3 separate regions of the Homo sapiens genome follow, and regions 1 and 2 are each linked to region 3. The links come from fine-mapping of genetic effects on gene expression. A gene starts in region 3. Each other region holds a variant in brackets. All regions are shown on one strand. Distances are from middle to middle.

Region 1 (6,557 bases), 31 kb before region 3:
ATCCTTGACACTCCTACAGAGTTTCTTTTCATAGCTTCTATGTCTTATTCTAAATAAAAAACCATTTTCTCCCTTTATTCCTAATATTCTATACATTTGGAGTGACTTCTTTGCAAAGAACTGTCCAAAAGAGAAATCAAACCAAAGCAAACACAGGCTGCCTGGGCCCTGTTCCAGCTCCTCAAAAATGCCACTAGAGGGCTCTGCCGGGCACTCACCAACGCATAAATGGGTCTCCCATCATCTTCCGTGACTCCTCTCTTTATCTCAATATACAAGGACTCCAAGACACTGTTAATGTTGTTGATGAAGTCCTCCAACTTATCTACGGTGGCATTGCCTGGAAATAAACAGACCAAAAAAAGGGGGGTGACCAGGGGGCCTCATCAAAAAAATGTAGCTTGCTTGAATCATTCCATCCCATCTCAACGCAGGGGACAGCAACCCCAGACATGGGTGGAGGCTGCAGCCTCTTGGGTGAACGCCAATGCCACGTGGCTTCTTTCTTCCTGGAGTACTTGGAAGACAAACAGACAACAGATGGAGGGCGTTGTGAGGCAGGAGGGCCAGGGAGATGCTATCTGCAACCACGGAGGCTGCCGCGGGCTTCCTGTCTTTGCTCGCTGCCTCCTGATGAGAGTCCCAATCAGCACCTTCAGCGCATTACTCAATGATGTGCTCAGAGCCTGCGTGAGCTCCCGCCGCACAAACATCCTATCCCATCTCAGCCCTTCTATCGCATCCCCAGTGCCCCGCGAGAGGCCTCTGTCCCTGTATGTCCCCACACATCTTAGGTGGAGCTTTATTCCTTTCTCTTTTTATTCAATGTCGGGTTATCCTCACTTACATGCCAGGCTTGTGCTGGGTCCTGGGCTGGAACAGTAAGAATAACAACAAACGGGGTGAGAAGGGTGGCTTGCAGCGAGCCCTCAGCATGGAGAGGCCCTGTCCTGGGCACCTTTTGTCGTCATGAATCCACCCTCCAGCAGCTCTCTGGGCACAGGGGAAGAGGCTGAGACGCAGAGAGGTGAACTGACTCGCCCAGAGTTGCACCACAAGGCCGGGGCTTTGACTTCTCTGTCGCCCACCTCCCCTGGCCCTGCCAGCAGGATGCTCACAGCCCAGGGGCCACCATCCAGGTCCATCAGTCTGAGGAGGGGGCACCCACACTATTGCCGGGGGCTCAGCTGAGGAGGACAGAGAGGCTGCGGTGAGGACAGGAGCCCGTGGCCGGGGACAGCAGGGCCTTTCTCCTGTGGCACCAGGAAGCCTCTGAGCACTGGAAGCAGTGGAAGGACATGGCCAGCGTTGTGTCCCTTTTATGCTGTGAAACTTTTTTTTTTTTTTTTTTTTTTTTGAGACAGAGTCTTGCTCTCGCCCTGGCTGGAGTGCAGTAGCACAGTCTTGGCTCACTGCAACCTCCACCTCCCGGGTTCAAGCAGTTCTCCTGCCTTAGCCTCCCGAGGAGTTGAGATTACAGGCATGCACCACCACACCCAGCTAATTTTTGTATTTTTAGTAGAGATGGGGTTTTACCATGTTGGCCAGGCTGGTCTCGATCTCCTGACCTCAAGTGTTCCGCCCACCTCAGCTTCCCAAAGTGCTGGGATTATAGGCGTGAGCCACCACGCCCAGCTTGTGCTGTGAAACTTTTTAAAGCAAGAGTATGTATTATTGTTTTCACTACTGTTTTTATGTATTAAAATAAATAATTTCAAAAGATTCATGCCTTAGAAAATCATTCTGGAAAAAAAACTGCAAGAAAAAATGGACAATATGATACATTCATGTGTGAAACAAAAACAGAACCAATGAAACAGTCCCACAGGAAAAGGCCCAGCAGGTTACCCACTGGACTGACGACCAAGGCCATCGCCAGGAAGGGACTAAACGAAGGGTCATCACAGGGCACTCGTGCTGTATGTCTGTGTTTGATTTCTTATTAGACAGAGGCATTTCTAAGCTACCCGTACAACTCAAGATTCATAAAGTTAAAAAAAAAAACAACAGAAGATCATGCTGGTGACAATGGAGGATGTGGCCGTGTGAAAGAGTCAAGGAAAACCCAGGCCAATGAGCTCTGTCAGAGGATCAGACTGTGGGGCCCAGAAAAGCTGAGAACAAAGCCCAGGGCAGTGACACTAATGTGCCATGCTCAGCGAGGAGCTAATCTTCCCTTTCAGTTAAGTTTTTAAAAGGCAGTTTAAATTAAAAAGTAGTCATAGTAAGTGGGTGGAACATGGATGTGGTGAGATCGTAACATATGACAATGACATCTGGCCTCGGCGGCTGGAGAGCAGGCATCAGGAGGGAGGCATGGCCTGACTTCCTGCCTCCATGCCCCTGCTCACGGGCCCCTCCTTTCTGAAAACTCCTCTCCCTCCACTGCGGCAGCCACCTTGGATGGCCTGTTTTTCCAGGAAATGTTCTCTTCTGCCCCCGGTGCTGTCTTCCTCTTCCACAGCATGCAAGGCAGCTCTTTGCTGGCGTGGGAGCCGAGCTGTTCCGTACCTGCCTGTGCCAGTGACTTGGCCAGACACACTTTTCCACCCCCAAGGGGAGCCAACGCTGGGCAGCTCAGGTGCAAGAGGCCCAGACATCAAAAAGCCTCGTTCAGTGCGGAGTGAGTGACAGGAACCCTGTCCACCCAGTGTGACACTGGGGCAAGTCCCACCTCTCTGAAAGTGACAATTCACATTTTCCACTAACGAGGCCCCTCCTGGGTATCACTGAGAACAATGTGCCCTGTGGGCAGATGAGAAGCATTCTGATCTATTGGACTTTCCAGACACCCCGTTGCAGGGAGGGAGCCAGCAGCCCTCTCTGCCCTTCCCCTCTCCACACCACCTCTGGTTTGGCGTCCAGCCTCATTTTTCAGAAACCATGAATGTTTTGCTGTATTTTCATCTGACCAACCACTTCCTCCTACTGTACTCGCTCACTGCACACACCAGCCACTGCTTGGGCGCTCCCGTTCTCTCCGCTATCGCCCTCTTTCCTTCCACACGCTTCCTGCATCAGGGTCATGTCCACGATCTCCATCGCTGACCCTGTAACTGTTTCTCACGGAGGCCCCGCGCCCTTGCAGCTCCTCTTAATCGTGACCTGAGAAGAAACTTCTCTTACACTCAGCACCCCCAAACCCTTCAACTGACTCCTTTCAGCAGCAACAGAGGTGGCGTGGTGGCATGGGGCCAGA[A/G]GCAGAGGTGTGGGCTCTAGCCCATCCTGCCCTCCCGCTCTGTGGGGCCCTGCGTGAGCCTCTCCCCCACTTCTCATCTCTAACAGCCACACACAGTCTCGCCTCCAGCCTCACACATGTCCAGAACCCTCTTCCCTCCCGCTTCTCTACCACCACCCCTGGCTGGACCCCAGCCTCCTGATCCTCTGGCAGCCTCCCGTACAGGCCTTCCCCAACCAGATAAGCTGCACTTCCCAGCTCTGTCCTCCCATGGCAGCACTTCCTTCCTCATCACGTGGCACTCCAGTTACTGTGTCCAGCCGCCGCCCCAAGACAGGAGTCAGCTGGTGACACCTGCCAGCCCAGCAGCCATGTCCCTCCCTAACGAGACCTTCGCCTTTTTTCTTTTTTTTTTTTTACAATTGTCTTTCTCTTACATTTGCGGTTTTGGTGAGAGAATAATTCCAGGTATGATATTCAGGGAACCAGAAAGCAGAAAGCTGAAGGGACCAGAGATTAGGGCAGCCAGGAGTAGACAGAGAACCCCTATCAGCCAGACACTCTCCCAATCTGAGCAAGGGACAAAAGGAAGCTTGGAGGTGGCTCCAGCCCAGAAGCTACAGAGGGCCAGCTGCTCTGGCCATGAGGTGATGCCATGCTTCCTGCCTATCCCCAACTGTGCACCTGGCCACCAATGAGTCCTATGTGTCCCTCCCCCAATAGCATCCCGACACATTTTTTTTTTTTTTTGAGATGGAGTGTCACTCCATTGCCCAGGCTGGAGTGCAGTGGCACAGTCTCAGCTCACAGCAACCTCCACCTCCCAGGTTCAAGCGATCCTCCTGCCTCAGCCTCCCCAGGCACTGGGACTACAGGTGTTTCACCACCACACCTGGCTAATTTTTTGTATTTTTAGTAGAGATGGGATTTCACTATGTTGGCTGGTCTGGTCTCAAACTCCTGACCTCAAGTGATCTGCCCACCTGTCTCCCCAAGTTTTGGGATTACAGGCGTGAGCCACCGTGCCCAGCCCCGACACATTCCTTTCTAAGTTGACCAGAACTGGGGTCTCTTGCTTGCTCCCAAGATCCTTATGATGTCCACTAAGCGCTAAGGTTGCACCAGATCGCTGCTTCCCAGCCTCAGGTCTTCAGGACAGCTAATGTCCACAGCTCTGCCCCTGGTCTCTCCCCTGATCCAGGAGCCCTGGTGGAGAAGCTACAGTTTGCCAATCTGTAGGGATACACTGGGCTAAAGGCATGTCTGAGGATCCTTTTGACCTCAATATTCTACGAGCCCATGGTCATGATAAAGAGTGCGGAATAAAGTCCGTATGGTGAGATTCTGAGACAACTACTTTCAGTCTTAGAAATACCACTTTGAAGACTTAGGAGTTAATTAACAACACCACTCCTTTTCAGAATCCAGAACCAACTGAAGAAAAAGACACAACCTTCAGTAAATATCAAAACATCAGGTTTTCTGTAGGTAGCGCTGGATCAGAGGCTGGTTCTCTGCACACCACCAACCTCCAGTCAGTGATATGGGAGGCCCAGCTATGAGGACAGAGGAACGAGGCCCTGGCCCTAGCACAGATGTCTCCTCTAGAGGGAAAGAGATACCCTAGCCAGGACAACCAGCAACATGTTTAAATCAAGCAAGTTGAACCTCTAAACCTCTAAACACAGTGCTATCTGTGTTCTCTCTACTTGGAAGAGGCAGGGTGTGTCTGGATTTCTTAAGGGCTATAGTAAAGTAGCTCATGTTAGGCTAAAATCAAGGGGCCTGCAAATGTGTGGCTATGATTACCTTATTATGTGCCAGCACTATGCATTCACATGGTTCATTTCATCATGACAATAACAGTAACTCCGTAAGATGAAATCACTAGTATCATCTGTATATACAGGAGGCTTGGAGAGGTTAACAACTTGCTCATAGTTTCCGTAACTTGGAAGGAAATGGAGCCCGGGCTTGCCCAACCCCAGATCCTAAGCTCCCAGGCACTAAGCCCCATGGGCTCCACAGAACAAGCCTGAGGACATCCTCTATACCAGACCCCACCGTCATCTCGTCTATACCCTCCTGCACCTGCCCTGTGCTTCAGAGTCACCAAGAGAGACTGGGCCAACAGGGAAGGATGGAAGGCATCTGGGCACCTGATTAGGACACCAGAGGTGGTACCCAAAGAGGAGCTGCACTCACAGAGGAGATGCATTGGATCAGCCCGGCCTGGCCCAGCCCAGCATCCATCATCCCCTCAGCTCAGACCAGCCCAGCATCCATCATCCCCTCAACCCAGCTCAGCCCAGCATCCATCATCCCCTCAACCCAGCCCACCCCAGCATCCATCATCCCCTTGGCCCAGCCCTGAGCACTGGGCCAGGTCCAGCGTGCAGGGACAGCATGCAGGGCAGCAGGAGCAGCTGAGGAAAGGCAAAGACCCTGGAGCGAACAGAGCCACTCTTCCTTTAACAGGAAATGCCCATCAGTGGTGGCAATTGAAAACGGGCCTCCAGGCAAGTGACAAGCACTGAACAAAACAGGACACTTCTCCCCTAAGGAGAAGGGTTGGCTCAAGTCATCTTGAGAGATTTTGTTTTGGACTAATTCTGTATACAGTTTCTCCTTTTCTTTTAAAATTAAATTTTAAGGCCAGGTGTGGTGGCTTACACCTGTAATCACAGTACTTTGGAAGGCCAAGGCAGGAGGATCATTTGAGGCCAGGAGTTCAAGACAAGCCTGAGCAATGGATCAAGAGCTCATCTCTACAAAAAAATTTAAAAATCAGCCAGGCATGGTGGCATGTGGCTATAGTCTCAGCTACTTGGGAGGCTGAGGCAGGAGGATAGCTTGAGCCCAGGAGTTGGAGACTGCAATGAGCTATGATCGCATCACTGCATTCTAGCCTGGGTGACAGAGCTAGGCCATCTCTCAAAAAATGAAAGAAATGATTAAGTTACATTGGAATGTAATGTTACCAATGAGCCTCTTCTTGCTATATCAGGGTCCCTGCTTCCCAGAGGCTACTGGAACCTAGGATTCACTGTGCACTTGGGCAACAGGAAATTGGGAAGTCTACTGCCCTGACCTCTGACCAACAAATAGTTTTGTTCTAAACTAGGCAATAAAAACATAAAATGTTATTTTTAGGCAGAGGAAATAACAGCAAAAAATAAGACTCCAAGGGCCCAAGCCACTGTGAGCCAACTTACCCTCTGACAGCCCTCCCGACAGACAGGGTGGACGGGCGGTCCTGCTAGCACAGCACTGAGGACAGGGCAGGGCAGGCCCTGGATGAGACGGGGGTGCAGGAGTGGAGCTGGCCCAAGAGAGCAGACCCTGGGCTGGGAAGAAGGAAGGGCTGGTGGGCAGGACA
Region 2 (5,000 bases), 80 kb after region 3:
GGGGAGTCACTGCATAGATCCTCACATAGAGGCCGCTTCTCCCGCAGTGAAACCCAGGGCCCCAGGAAACCTGACAGTTCACACCAATGTCTCCGACACTCTGCTGCTGACCTGGAGCAACCCGTATCCCCCTGACAATTACCTGTATAATCATCTCACCTATGCAGTCAACATTTGGAGTGAAAACGACCCGGCAGATGTGAGTGGGCATGCTTTGACGTTTTTCTGTGACCTCTGGGGAACAGGGTGGGTGACCAGCAGAGGCCCAGTCCCTGGAGCCAGGAGCCTGGGAGGCAAGCCCTGGGGCTGGATAGCAAATCCCAGGAGCTAGAGACCTGGCTTCTCACCTGGCTCTGCACTAGGCAAGTCCCTTTGCTTCCTGGCCCCCCACCCCTCACATCAGAGAAGGGGAGTTATCTCTGCATGCCGCTCCTCCTCTGTAAAGGTAGGGCTGTGGGCCACATCTGTGTTTCCCAGTTTGGGGGACACAAGTGATCGTAGGTGGCACATTGACAGCTCACTTGAATAACCCTATTATTGAAGAGAATAATACTGACTCAAGAGACAGTGACCCGTGTCAGTTCCCTTTTGAGGCCAACGGGTTAAGGAGGAAGTCCCCATACAGCTGACTCGTTTACTAATTCCTCTTAATGAAGAGAGCAGAGGCCACACCCCAGGCTTAGACTTTCCCAAGAAAACAAGATCAGTTTGTTGGTTGTTCCCCATGGAAGCTGGTCCTGACATTCCCTTCACAGTAGTGTTGGTGGAGTTTTTGTTGTTGTTTGTTTTGAGACAGAGTCTCACTCTGTCACCCAGGGTGGAACACAGTGGCGTGATCTTGGCTCACTGCAACCTCCGCCTCCTGGGTTCTAGCGATTCTCCTGCCTCAGCCTCCTGAGCAGCCGGGACTACAGGCACCTGCCACCGTGCCCAGCTAATTTTTGTATATTTAGTAGAGATGGGGTTTCACTGCGTTGGCCAGGCTGGTCTCAAACTCCTGACCTCAGATGATCCACTCGCCTTGGCCTCCCAAAGTGCTGGGATTACAGGTGTGAGCCACCGCACCTGGCCAGTGGAGTTCCTTCTTAAGTACATGTATTGACATCTTTAAAAAGGGCGAGAGGATTTACAGGAAACTATCAGGTCAGTAATGGCAGGGGCCGTCCACAGTGGGTGGCTGAGTCCCCCTATTTTTCTGCTGGTGTGCAGGGAGGTCATTTCCTGCCACCCATGTTTCCCCACCCTGAATCCACCTTCCTCACATTCCCATTGGAGGGACAATCTCTGGACATATGGGACCTGGGGTCCCACAGGGCTGCAATCCAATGCCTGCTGTGCCACTCGCCAGCTGTGTGATGTTGGGCATATCCCATAACCTCTTTGTGCCTCAGTTTCCTCATCTGTAACACAGGAGTGACAAGAGCACCCGCCCACAGGGCTATGACAGTACAAGGTGTGTGATACAGATGAGCTCCCCTGTTTGGCCCACATGTGTCCTAAAAGCCATGTGCCCTTTCTCTTGAGTGCCCCAGGCCACAGAGATCCCCATCTGCCCGCTGTCCCACACACTGGTCTGTCATTTGTTCCTTGAGGTTTGTGAGGGCCGGCTCTGTGCATCCCAGGGGCCCAGGCTGGGCCTGGTTGGCTCTCAGGGAGCAGGCACCCGCCACCTTAAGCTCCCATGCTGGTGTCTGTCACTGCTTCCTCTCAATCTGGCCAAGCCAGGGGTGTCGATTTATATCTCTCAGGTCTGGTTTCCCCTTTGGCACTGGGCCAGGTATGGGGAAAGAGCAGGAATGGGGCAGTTGGCTCACACAGCAGAGGCTCAGAAAGCGGGGGGCATGGGGGGAAGGAGTGCACAGATGCTAGAGAGTGGGGCAAGTTTTGTTTGGTCAATAAATCTCCTTCTCATGCCCCAGGCCTGTGCAAGACCTACAGAGAGTCCCAAGGATGGGCTGGGGGGAAGAGAAAGGTACCACCTTCAGAGTCCAAAGATATGTTATTTAATATTTTCATATTTCTAGATCTGCCTTCAGGCATGGCTGGATCCAGCTTCTAGGAACCTGTCCAGCTCTGCGCCCTGCTTTATTCTGTA[C/T]TGGCTTCGTTTTTAGGCAGGCTCTTCCCTCATGTAGTGGCAGATATGCCTACTAGTTGCTCCAGGCCTACATCCCAAAGCCACAGTGGGAAAAGGGTTTTTTTTCTTGACGGTTCTAATAAGAGTCCTAAGGCTGCTGCTCAGTGGCCTGGCTTCGATGCTGTGCCAGCCTCTGAACCAATCACTGGCTGTGGGTGGAGAGAGGGTGCTGGTGGAGGGCCCTGCTTGTCCAGGGAGGAGTCACATACCTGCCTCTAGGGCTGCAGGTGGGCTCAGCTCCATCCAAACCAGATGAACTGAAAATAAGGCAGGAGTGGCTTCCCCAGGGGAAACTGGGGAAGAGGAAGCAGGACTGTGCTGGCTAAAATGCCAGCCAGGTTTAAGACGTGGCACCAGATGCCAGTCATGGGATTGGATTGGTCAGCATGCCTGGGCTATGGCTTAGGGGTATGTTGGTGCTCAGGGATGCCACAGGCCTCCAGATACCAGGTCTGAGGCAGAAGAATGAAGTCCAGCTTCTCTTGTGGGTGGAACAGTGGCAACTGAGATACCCCATCTCTCCCTTCCCAAGAACAGAGCTGAACATAAAGAATTTAGTGATTGGCCAGAGCTTGGCCACATGCTCCCCTCTGATGAATGATAGGCCAGGTGATGGGATTGGCACAATTGGCTTAGACTAATGAGGGTTGGCCCTGGAGTTGCAGGCAGTGGAGTTCTGTCCTAAGCAGTGGGCACCTAAACCCGATGGCATAAAAGCTGGGCGGGTGTCCACCTGCATCTGCCACAGCACTATAGGCACCAACTGTGGCTCATACTGAGTGGGATAAATTCCAGAAAGAAACATTAGGAACTTACTATAGAATTTTGGGGCTAGAGCTACTCATTCATTCCCCTAGATAATTTCTAGGCAAGGTTCCATAGTGGAGGGGGAGTTTTGGCTTGGGCATTGAAGGATGCATAGGAGTTTTCTAGATGGGGAAAGAAGGGAACGGTAGACCAGGCAGAGGGAACTGCATGATAAAAGGTTTATGGGTGTGAAAATTCATGGAATGTTTGAGGATTATGGGGTTGGGGGATGTGGGAATATGTGTAGCGATAAAGCACCAAACAAAGCCAAAAGTTTAGTTAGAGCCCTGAATGCCTGCCTCATAATGGTTTCCATATTTTATATGCCTACTATGTGCCAGGCACATTGCTCAGGGTCACACAGCTGGAAATGGCAGGGCTGAGTTTTTGTTGTTGTTGTTGTTGTTGAGACAGAGTCTCACTCTATCACCCAGGCTGGAATGCAGGGGCGTGATCATGGCTCACTGCATCCTTGACTTCCTGGGATCAGGTGATTCTCCCACCTCTGCCTCCCAGGTAGCTGGGACTACAGGCACAGGCCACCACGCCAGGCTAATTTTTTGTATTTTTAGTAGCGACAGGGTCTCGCCATGTTGTCCGGGCTGGTCTGGATCTCCTGGCTTCAAGTGATCCCCCTGGCTCAGCCTCCCAAGGTGCTGGGATTACAGGCTTGAGCCACCGCATCCAGCCCAGATCTGAGATTTGCACCCAGTATTTGAACTCCCAAGCCTGTGCTCTTTTTCCTCCCATGGACATTTCTCTCAGAGATGGTCTCCCAAACACCTGTCCTTCTTGTTAAAAAACAGACAAACCGCAAGTAGTTCTTTGGAAGCTCAGATTTCTCTTTTGTTTCTTAGTAAAACATTTCCCAGTTCCCAGCTCCCTTCCAGGGTGTAAGATTTCTTCGGTAACTTACATCTAGCTGTTGCTTCTTGTTTGCTCATGTTTAGAAAGAAAGACAAAAGAGAGTGAGAATTTTCTCTCCCTTCCCCAGTCTCCCCACAACTCACACCCCACCCTCAGCTCCCTCTGTAATAGGAAAATCTCTGAACTCTCTGTAGTTGCTCCAGCAATCTTTTGGAACTTTGCTTCTTTCTTGTGAAAAAACCTCCCCTTGGCTCACTTTGCACCAGGTTTCCCCAAATGTGCTTCCAACCACAAGCAGAAATGGAGCTGCCAGTAACCAGGAAGAAACTGCCGGGGGCTGAGGAAGAGGAGAGGGAGGTGCATAGCCCTGGATCTCGCAGGGAGAGGGGTGACAGGATGAGAACTCAGGTTGCTCACTTGCCATCAGGGTCAGTCATGAATATAGCGTTCATGTATCACTTTTTAAAGCTTTTTTGGAGGGTAAAAGTAATAGTTACACAAAATAAAAATACAAATGGTACAAAAGGACTTAGAATGGAAACATGTTTCTCTCCCGACTCCAGCCTCCTGTTTTTCTTCCCAGAGACTGACCACTGCTGTCTGTCTCTTGCCAGAAGGGAAAGGGAGGCAAGGTTAGGGCAGGCAGAGGGCATGTGCATCCTTTAGAGAGAGCTTATGTCTATACAAGCAAATGTGTGTGTTCAGTCATCGCTGTCTTAGTTTTCTATTGCTGCATAATAATGGTACTACCAGCTTCACAGCTTTAAACAACACCCATTTATTATCTCATAGTTTCTGTGGTTGGGAGTCTGGACATAGCTTAGCCAGGTTCTCTGCTTTAGAGTCTCGTGAGGCTATAATCAAGGTGTGGGATGGGGCTGCAGTTTCATCTGAGGCTCAATTGGGGAAGGGTCACTTCTAAGCTCATACAATATTGGTGACATTCAGTCCCTGGCAGGCTGTTGAACTGAGAGCCTCAGTTTCGTGCTGGCTGTTGGTTGTAGTTAACCCTGAATTCCTTCCCATGTGCCCTTTGCAAAGCCATCAAGGCAGAGAGACTTGCCTAGCAAGTAGGATATTACAGTCTTCTGTAATATAATCACATCCATGAAATCCTCTATATATCCCATCACCTTTACCATATTCTGTGGGTTAGAAACAAGTAGCAGGTCCTGCCCACACTCGAGAAGAC
Region 3 (6,557 bases):
GAAGCACCTTGTAATAACAAAAGTCTGGCAACAGTATAAATGCCTACCAACTGAAGAACTACATTAAAACAATATAATCATCCCATAGAATTCAAATCAGCAATGAAGACAAAGTAGAGCTCCTCACATCAACACGCATACTTCTCAGAAAGATAATGTTAAGTGCAACAAGCAAGTCACACAAAATATATTTTAGGATCCTATTACATAAAATCGAAAACTCAGCAAAAGCATACATTCATTCATTAGAAATACACACATACATGGTAAAAACTACAAAGCAAAACAAGGCAACAAGTAACACAATATTCAGGGCGGTGGTTATCTTTGAGGAGGGAAGAAAGGATTCAGTGGAGGGTCTGGCAATCTGAAAATGTCTATTTCTTAACTTGGTGGCAGGTACATGAGTGTTCATTTTATTTTTGTTCTTCAAACTTACACTTCCACACAATTGTATAGGTATGTTACATACAATGTTTTTAAATGTGATGGGCTGGGCATGGTGATTCACACCTGTAATCTCAATACTTTGGGAGGTCAAGGCGGGAGGACTGCTTGAGGCCAGGAGTTTAAGACCAGCCTGGGCAACATAGCAAGATCCACTCTCAACAACAACAACAACAACAAAATAATGTGAATATGTTAAATAACAGCCAAAATAAATGTAAATGAGAATGAGAACAGGATAGGATTGAATGCTATAATTTGGTGGAAAAGGAGTGGGAAAAGTAGGAGTGGAAGAAAGACAACCATAAGCTTGTTTATGCATATTATGTCCCTTGTCTCTATGAGAAGAGACTGTAGGGAGAATGGTGGGATTAGCATAGACATGTATTACCTACTTAAATAATTTTATTTTATACAAAAATCAGCCAGGCGTGGTGGTGCACGCCTGTAATCCCAGCTACTCAGAAGGCTAAGGCAGGAGAATCGCTTGAACCCAGGAGGTGGAGGTTGCAGTGAGCCAAGATCGCGTCACTGCACTCTAGCCTGGGCGACAGGGCGAGACTCTGTCACAAAAAGAAAAAAAAAATTACTTTTTTTAAAAAAATTAATTAAAACAGTTTATTGGCTTTAAATGTACATCAGTAAATTTTTAAATGCTAAAAAGTTATGATAAAATAATACAGAACCAAAACATCAAAGAAAATAGAGGCTCAGCAGCATGATTTCAATATATTTTCCCGGATAAACAGATTTTTTTTCTAAGTATATGCCTTTTTATTCAAGAACAAAAACTCCCTAAATTCAATGTTTAGAACTGAATTTTTTTTAACTAAGCCCAGAAAACTGGGGCTCATAAAATAAGGCATAATGTGGGCAGCAAAAGAAAAAAGGAGAAAAAAAATGGGAGAAAAATTGGTTTTAATCCCATGTATAATATAGGTTGGCTGGTTTTGTTTTTGTTTTAGCCAATTTAAGGCAGAATTATCTCTCTGCAACCTTGCAGATAAATCCTAGTGTTTTAGCCATAAGTTTCAAGAGTTCATATATACAGATAAACCAATTAAAAAAACCTTTTCGAAGGCTTTTGAAGCATTATATAAATCTTTAAAATTCCTATCACCCACATTTTAAGAAATACATCTATACGTTTAAATTTATTATTAAATTAATTAAATGCATTAATTAAATCAATTTATTTAAATTTAATAATTTTAAAATAGAAATGTTTGTGGAATAAGTAAATCTCAGTCATACCATTCGTGCGGGTGCTAACACAATTCTAGTGCTTCACATGCCCGACCTCATTTAACCCAAACCAGAACAACCTTATGAGCAAAGGGTCACTGACCCCATCTTACAGATGAGGAAACTGAGACTAAGAGGGCACAAGGTGACACACAAGAGTTGGTGGCAGAGATAGACGTGACCATACAACAGCACAGTTCCTGTTTTCAAGGACACTCTCTATCCAGCGAGAGTGAGAAAAGTGAGTGAACAGAACAACTACAATCCAGGTCCCTCATCTGCAACCCTCAAATCTAAAAAGGTATGAATACTAGTGGATGATCGGATGCAGGGGAAAAAAAAAAAAAAGTCTGAATACCAAAACTTGTTTAAGTTGGAAAACTTGACCTGACTTAAGGTGAGGCTATTTATGGTTATTTATCCCAACAGTGTAAATATATGCATTTTTTTTTTTGAGACGGAGTTTCGCTCTTGTTGCCCAAGCTGGAGTGAAGTGGCACGATCTTGATTCACTGCAACCTCCGCCTCCCGGGTTCAAGCGATTCTCCTGCCTCAGCCTTCCGTCTCAGCCTCCCGAGTAGCTGGGATTACAGGCACGCACCACCACGCCCGGCTAATTTTTTGTATTTTTAGTAGAGACAGGGTTTCACCATATTAGCCAGGCTGGTTTCGAACTCCGAACCTCAGGTGATCCGCCCCCCTCAGCTTCCCAAAGTGCTGGAATTATAGCCGTGGGCCACCGCGACCAGGTCAATGTAATATATGCGTATCTTCATAACTTTAGCTGTGGAAAGGGTCGTGTATTTGATTACAAGCCGCTGCTCCAGCCCCCTCTGAGGGTGAAACCTAACATAGAACATAGGGACTTTACCTTTCCAAACTCCGAGAACTCCTCGATTTTAAACGCATCTGGCCTCGGGGCTGTAACATAAGCGGCTGCGGACTTGTACAAAGTAAGAAACTCCGTACACAAAACAGAGGGGAGCACGGAGGGCGGCGGGACAAAGAGGGTGGTCGGCAAAGGCTGTATTTTCCATAGATGTAATCACAGTTTGAATCGAATTTTATATTTTGCTTTTTCACCTGTTACAATGAAAAGTATCTTTACCTGTTAAATCGTAATTACGATTAAAAATATTTTTCACTAAATAGTAAGATTTTTAGATGTCTGCGTGTGTGTTGCGGGAGGACATCCCAGTCCGCTGTTTTCTGCGGCCCCTGTCTGGGCCTCAGTTTCCCCATCAAGAAGGGGGAAACCCCAAGACCCCAGTCCCCGAGTTCCACAGCCCACGGGGACCGACCCCGGGGCCGGACCCCACTGCCTGTCTCGCCCACCCCACCTTCCGTCCTCCCCTCGCCTTCCTTGAAGTCCCTCTTCTTTCCCCTCCAACCCCTAGCTCCCCACGTTACCCACCAGGGAGCCCAAGCGCATCCCAGGCCGCGCTAGCGGATACGGTCGCAAGGTGGACTCTTCTTCCTTTGAGGCGGGGCGAACGCGAACGCGGCGTTCCCATTGGTGGCCTGCGGCTTATTCGCCCGTCCGTTGAGTGACGCACTTCCGGTTCTCCGTTTGCGCCATTGCCCTGGTGGTTCCGCCTCGTGGGTTAGATCCCAAATTACGCCCGCTCTCGATCCTTAATAATGGGAAGGGGCTTCCACTTGTCGCCCTCCGCCTCCTGCACCTCAGTGACTTCCCTGACCAAGGAGGAAGAATTGGCGTGCAGCCTGGGCTTCCCTCAATGGCCACCATTCCGCTGGCACAATGTAGTGCCCTGCCCCGGGCCTCAGTTTCCCCATCTGTGGAACTGAGTGTGGCCTCGACGTCAAAAATGTGGACTCTGGTCCGGTCGCGGTGGCTCACGCCTGTAAGTAATCCCAGCACTTTGGGAGACCAAGGCGGGCCGATCACTTGAGGTCAGGAGTTCGAGACCAGCTTGGCCAACATGGTGAAACCCCCGTCCCTACTAAAAATACAAAAAGTAGCCGGGCGTGGTGGTGTGTGCCTGTAATCCCAGCTACCCGGGAGGCTGAGGCAGGAGAATCACTTGAACCCGAGAGGCAGAGGTTGCAGTGAGCCAGATCGTACCACAGCACTCGAGCCTGGGTGACAGAGCTCAAAAAAAAAGAAAAGAAAAATGTGGACTCTGTGGTCATAGAGCCTGATCTAGAATCCTGGCTCTGCCACTTACTAGTTGGCAGGCGCTTGGGCAAGTCACTGAGCCTCAGTTTCCTCTTCCATTAAATGAGGATATTAGTTCTTGCAAAATAGTGTTGGTGAGATTTACAAGAGATAATAACACCTATATCAGGTGCTTAGCATGGCCATTGAAAAGTGTCACATGGGAGTGCTGATTATATGTTAACTGTTATCTTACCTAGGGATTGTGAGAAAGCAAGTGAAATTACTCGTGGAAGTGAATGGACTGCTTTGAGTCTTCAAGGCGTTAATTTTCCAAACGTTTGAATTCTATCCCTGGTCTGAGAGCTAGGGATGCAGCCTAGCAAGGGAAACAGGTAACTAATATAGAACAGCAGTACCTGCAAATATCTGTCTCTGTGAGGATAGATCAAATCCAGGCTTGGTCACTCACCACCCCTGTGATCTTGGACAACCTCTTAACCTCTCTGGGCTTCAGTTTCATCTGCTAAGTGGGAAAGCAGTGGTGTGTGGTGATTAAAAGCTTCAGCTTTGGAGCTGGATGGTCAACATGGAATCCTGGGCCTTAAACTCAGTGTCTCTGAGACATAGGACAAAGTACAGTCAGCTGTCCATGTTTACAGGTTCCCCATCTACGGATTGAAGCAACTGTGGGTGGTTAATATTTGTGGGGGAAAACAGTAAAAAATAACAGTTCAACAATAAAAATAATACAGATTCCGAAAGCAATACAGCATAGCAATTACTTATATAGCATTTACATTGTATTAAGTATTGTAAGTAATTTAAAGATGATTTTCAATATACTGGAGGATTTGTGTAGGTTAAATGCAAGTATTCTCGCATTTTGTAAGCACCCAATGGTTCTCCTTGCCTGCTTCCTAGACAGAACCAATTTATCAAGACAGGGGAATTGCAATAGAGAAAGTTTAATTCACACAGAGCTGGCTGAACAGGAGACCACAGTTTTATTATTACTCAAATCAGTCTCCCTGGAAATTCAGGGTTTTCAAGGATAATTTGGTGGCTGGAGGTGCTGGGGATTAGAGAGTGTTGATAGGTTGGATCAGAGAGGAAAGGAGTCAAAGCTGTCCTCTTGCACTGAGTCAGATCCTGGGTTAGGACCATAGGACCAGATTAGCCAGATTACAGGGCTGGGTGGCGTCAGCTGGTGCATTAGAACACGGGTTCTGCAAAATATCTCAAGCACTGATTTTAGGTTTTAGAACAGTGATGTTACTCCCGGAAGCAATCTGGGGAGGGTCAGAATCTTGTAGCCTCCAGCTTGCGTGACCTCCTAAACCATAATTTCTAATCTTTTAGCTAATTTGTTAGTCTACAAAGGCAGACCCGTTCCTAGGCAAGGAGGGGATTTGTTTTGGGAAAGGGCTATTATTGCCTTTGTTTCAAAGTTAAACTATAAACTAAGTTCTTTCCAACATTAATTCCACCTATGTCCAGGAATGATCAAGGACAGCTTGGAAGTTAGAAGCAAGATGGAGTCAGGCCAGATCTCTTTCACTATCATAATTTTCTCAGTTATGCTTTTTACAAAGGTGGTTTTGATTTTACATAAGGGACTTGAGCATCGAGAATTTTGGTATCCATGGGGACTAAGGTACCAATCCCTCACAGATACTAAGGGATGACTGAGCTCAAGTTTTCAGCTTCAGTTTGCTCATCTATAAAGCAGGTTTAATAATAACACTTTGTTGATAATGTTATTCTGAAGATTAAAGGAAGAGTAAACGTAAACTACTTAGAAGAGTGTCTCTGGCACATTGTAAGCCCTCAATAAGTGTGAACTAACACCACTAATAAGTTCTTTATAAACTGCCTAATAGGTAGTCAAATAAGAGGGGAAATAAAGCCCTAAGGAGTAATATTTGTGTTTTGTTTGCCCTACATGGTTTTGTGAAATTTTCTATTCATTATCAATATTTAAAGTTGGGGTTTTCAATCTTTGACTGGGCATGATGGCTCATTCCTGTAATTCCAACACTTTGGGAGGCCCAGCTGGGAGGATGGCTTGAGCTCAGAAGTTTGAGATCAGCCATGGCCAACATGGTGAGGCCCCCATCTCTACAAAAAAAATATATACGCGCGCGCGCACACACACACACACACACACACACACGCAAAAATTAGCCAGGCATGGTGGTGAACACCTGTGGTCCCAGCTACTCAAGAGGCTGAGGTGGGAGGACAGCTTGAGCCAAGGAGGAAGAGGTTGCAGTGAGCTGAGATTGCATCACTGCACTCCAGCCTGTGTGACAGAGCCAGACTCTGTCTCAAAAATAAATAAATAAACTTGGGACATTTCACATAAAACCCTACTGTAGCTGACTGCTCTGGAAAAGTGGGGAAGTCTGACGACAGTGGGCCAGCCTTCCCCCATGGCAGCACTTGTTCAGAACTTGGGAGAGACCGTCCCCTTTTGTGAAGCATGTGCTTCCCTGGTGTGTGGAGAGATAAAAGAATAGAAAACGCTGGGAACACCAGCATTTCAAGATCAAAGCGTCAAGAAAAAAAGGTAGAAAGAAAAGAAAGATTCAAGACTGAGGGGGTTGGTCTTTCACTTGAAGACCATAGAAGTGATGGAAGACCAGGAAGAAATGAGAGAAGGTTTGTATTTTAGAAAAAGAACTTGGGTATATCTATTCTTTTCAAACATGCTTGGAACATTTACAGAAATTGATTACTGGGC

The links. PIP is the estimated chance that this variant, and not a neighbour inherited with it, causes the effect. A credible set is the group of variants that fine-mapping cannot tell apart.
Region 1: its variant is the best candidate, but not a certain one, in a credible set for the expression of NSMCE1 in blood mononuclear cells (TOPMed, PIP 0.65).
Region 2: its variant is the best candidate, but not a certain one, in a credible set for the expression of NSMCE1 in whole blood (TOPMed, PIP 0.89).

The regions. Positions count from the first base shown.
Region 1 is chr16:27,234,960-27,241,516 of GRCh38, forward strand. NSMCE1 (NSE1 component of SMC5/6 complex) reads right to left here. Exons shown (of 8, transcript NM_145080.4): 3 at 219-340. Among named protein-coding and RNA genes, the nearest start is that of NSMCE1-DT, 30 kb to the right of the region's middle. RefSeq lists enhancers at 631-720, 901-1,425, 2,346-2,415, 2,766-2,885, 3,289-3,583. The variant A/G (reference allele first, on the strand shown) is at 3,200.
Region 2 is chr16:27,346,420-27,351,419 of GRCh38, forward strand. It overlaps IL4R (interleukin 4 receptor), which reads left to right. Exons shown (of 11, transcript NM_000418.4): 6 at 48-199. Among named protein-coding and RNA genes, the nearest start is that of IL4R, 35 kb to the left of the region's middle. The variant C/T (reference allele first, on the strand shown) is at 2,096.
Region 3 is chr16:27,265,600-27,272,156 of GRCh38, forward strand. NSMCE1 (NSE1 component of SMC5/6 complex) reads right to left here and starts at 3,173. Exons shown (of 8, transcript NM_145080.4): 1 at 3,107-3,173. It overlaps NSMCE1-DT (NSMCE1 divergent transcript), which reads left to right and starts at 2,606. Exons shown (of 5, transcript NR_037184.1): 1 at 2,606-2,645. RefSeq lists a silencer at 3,067-3,146 and an enhancer at 6,055-6,557.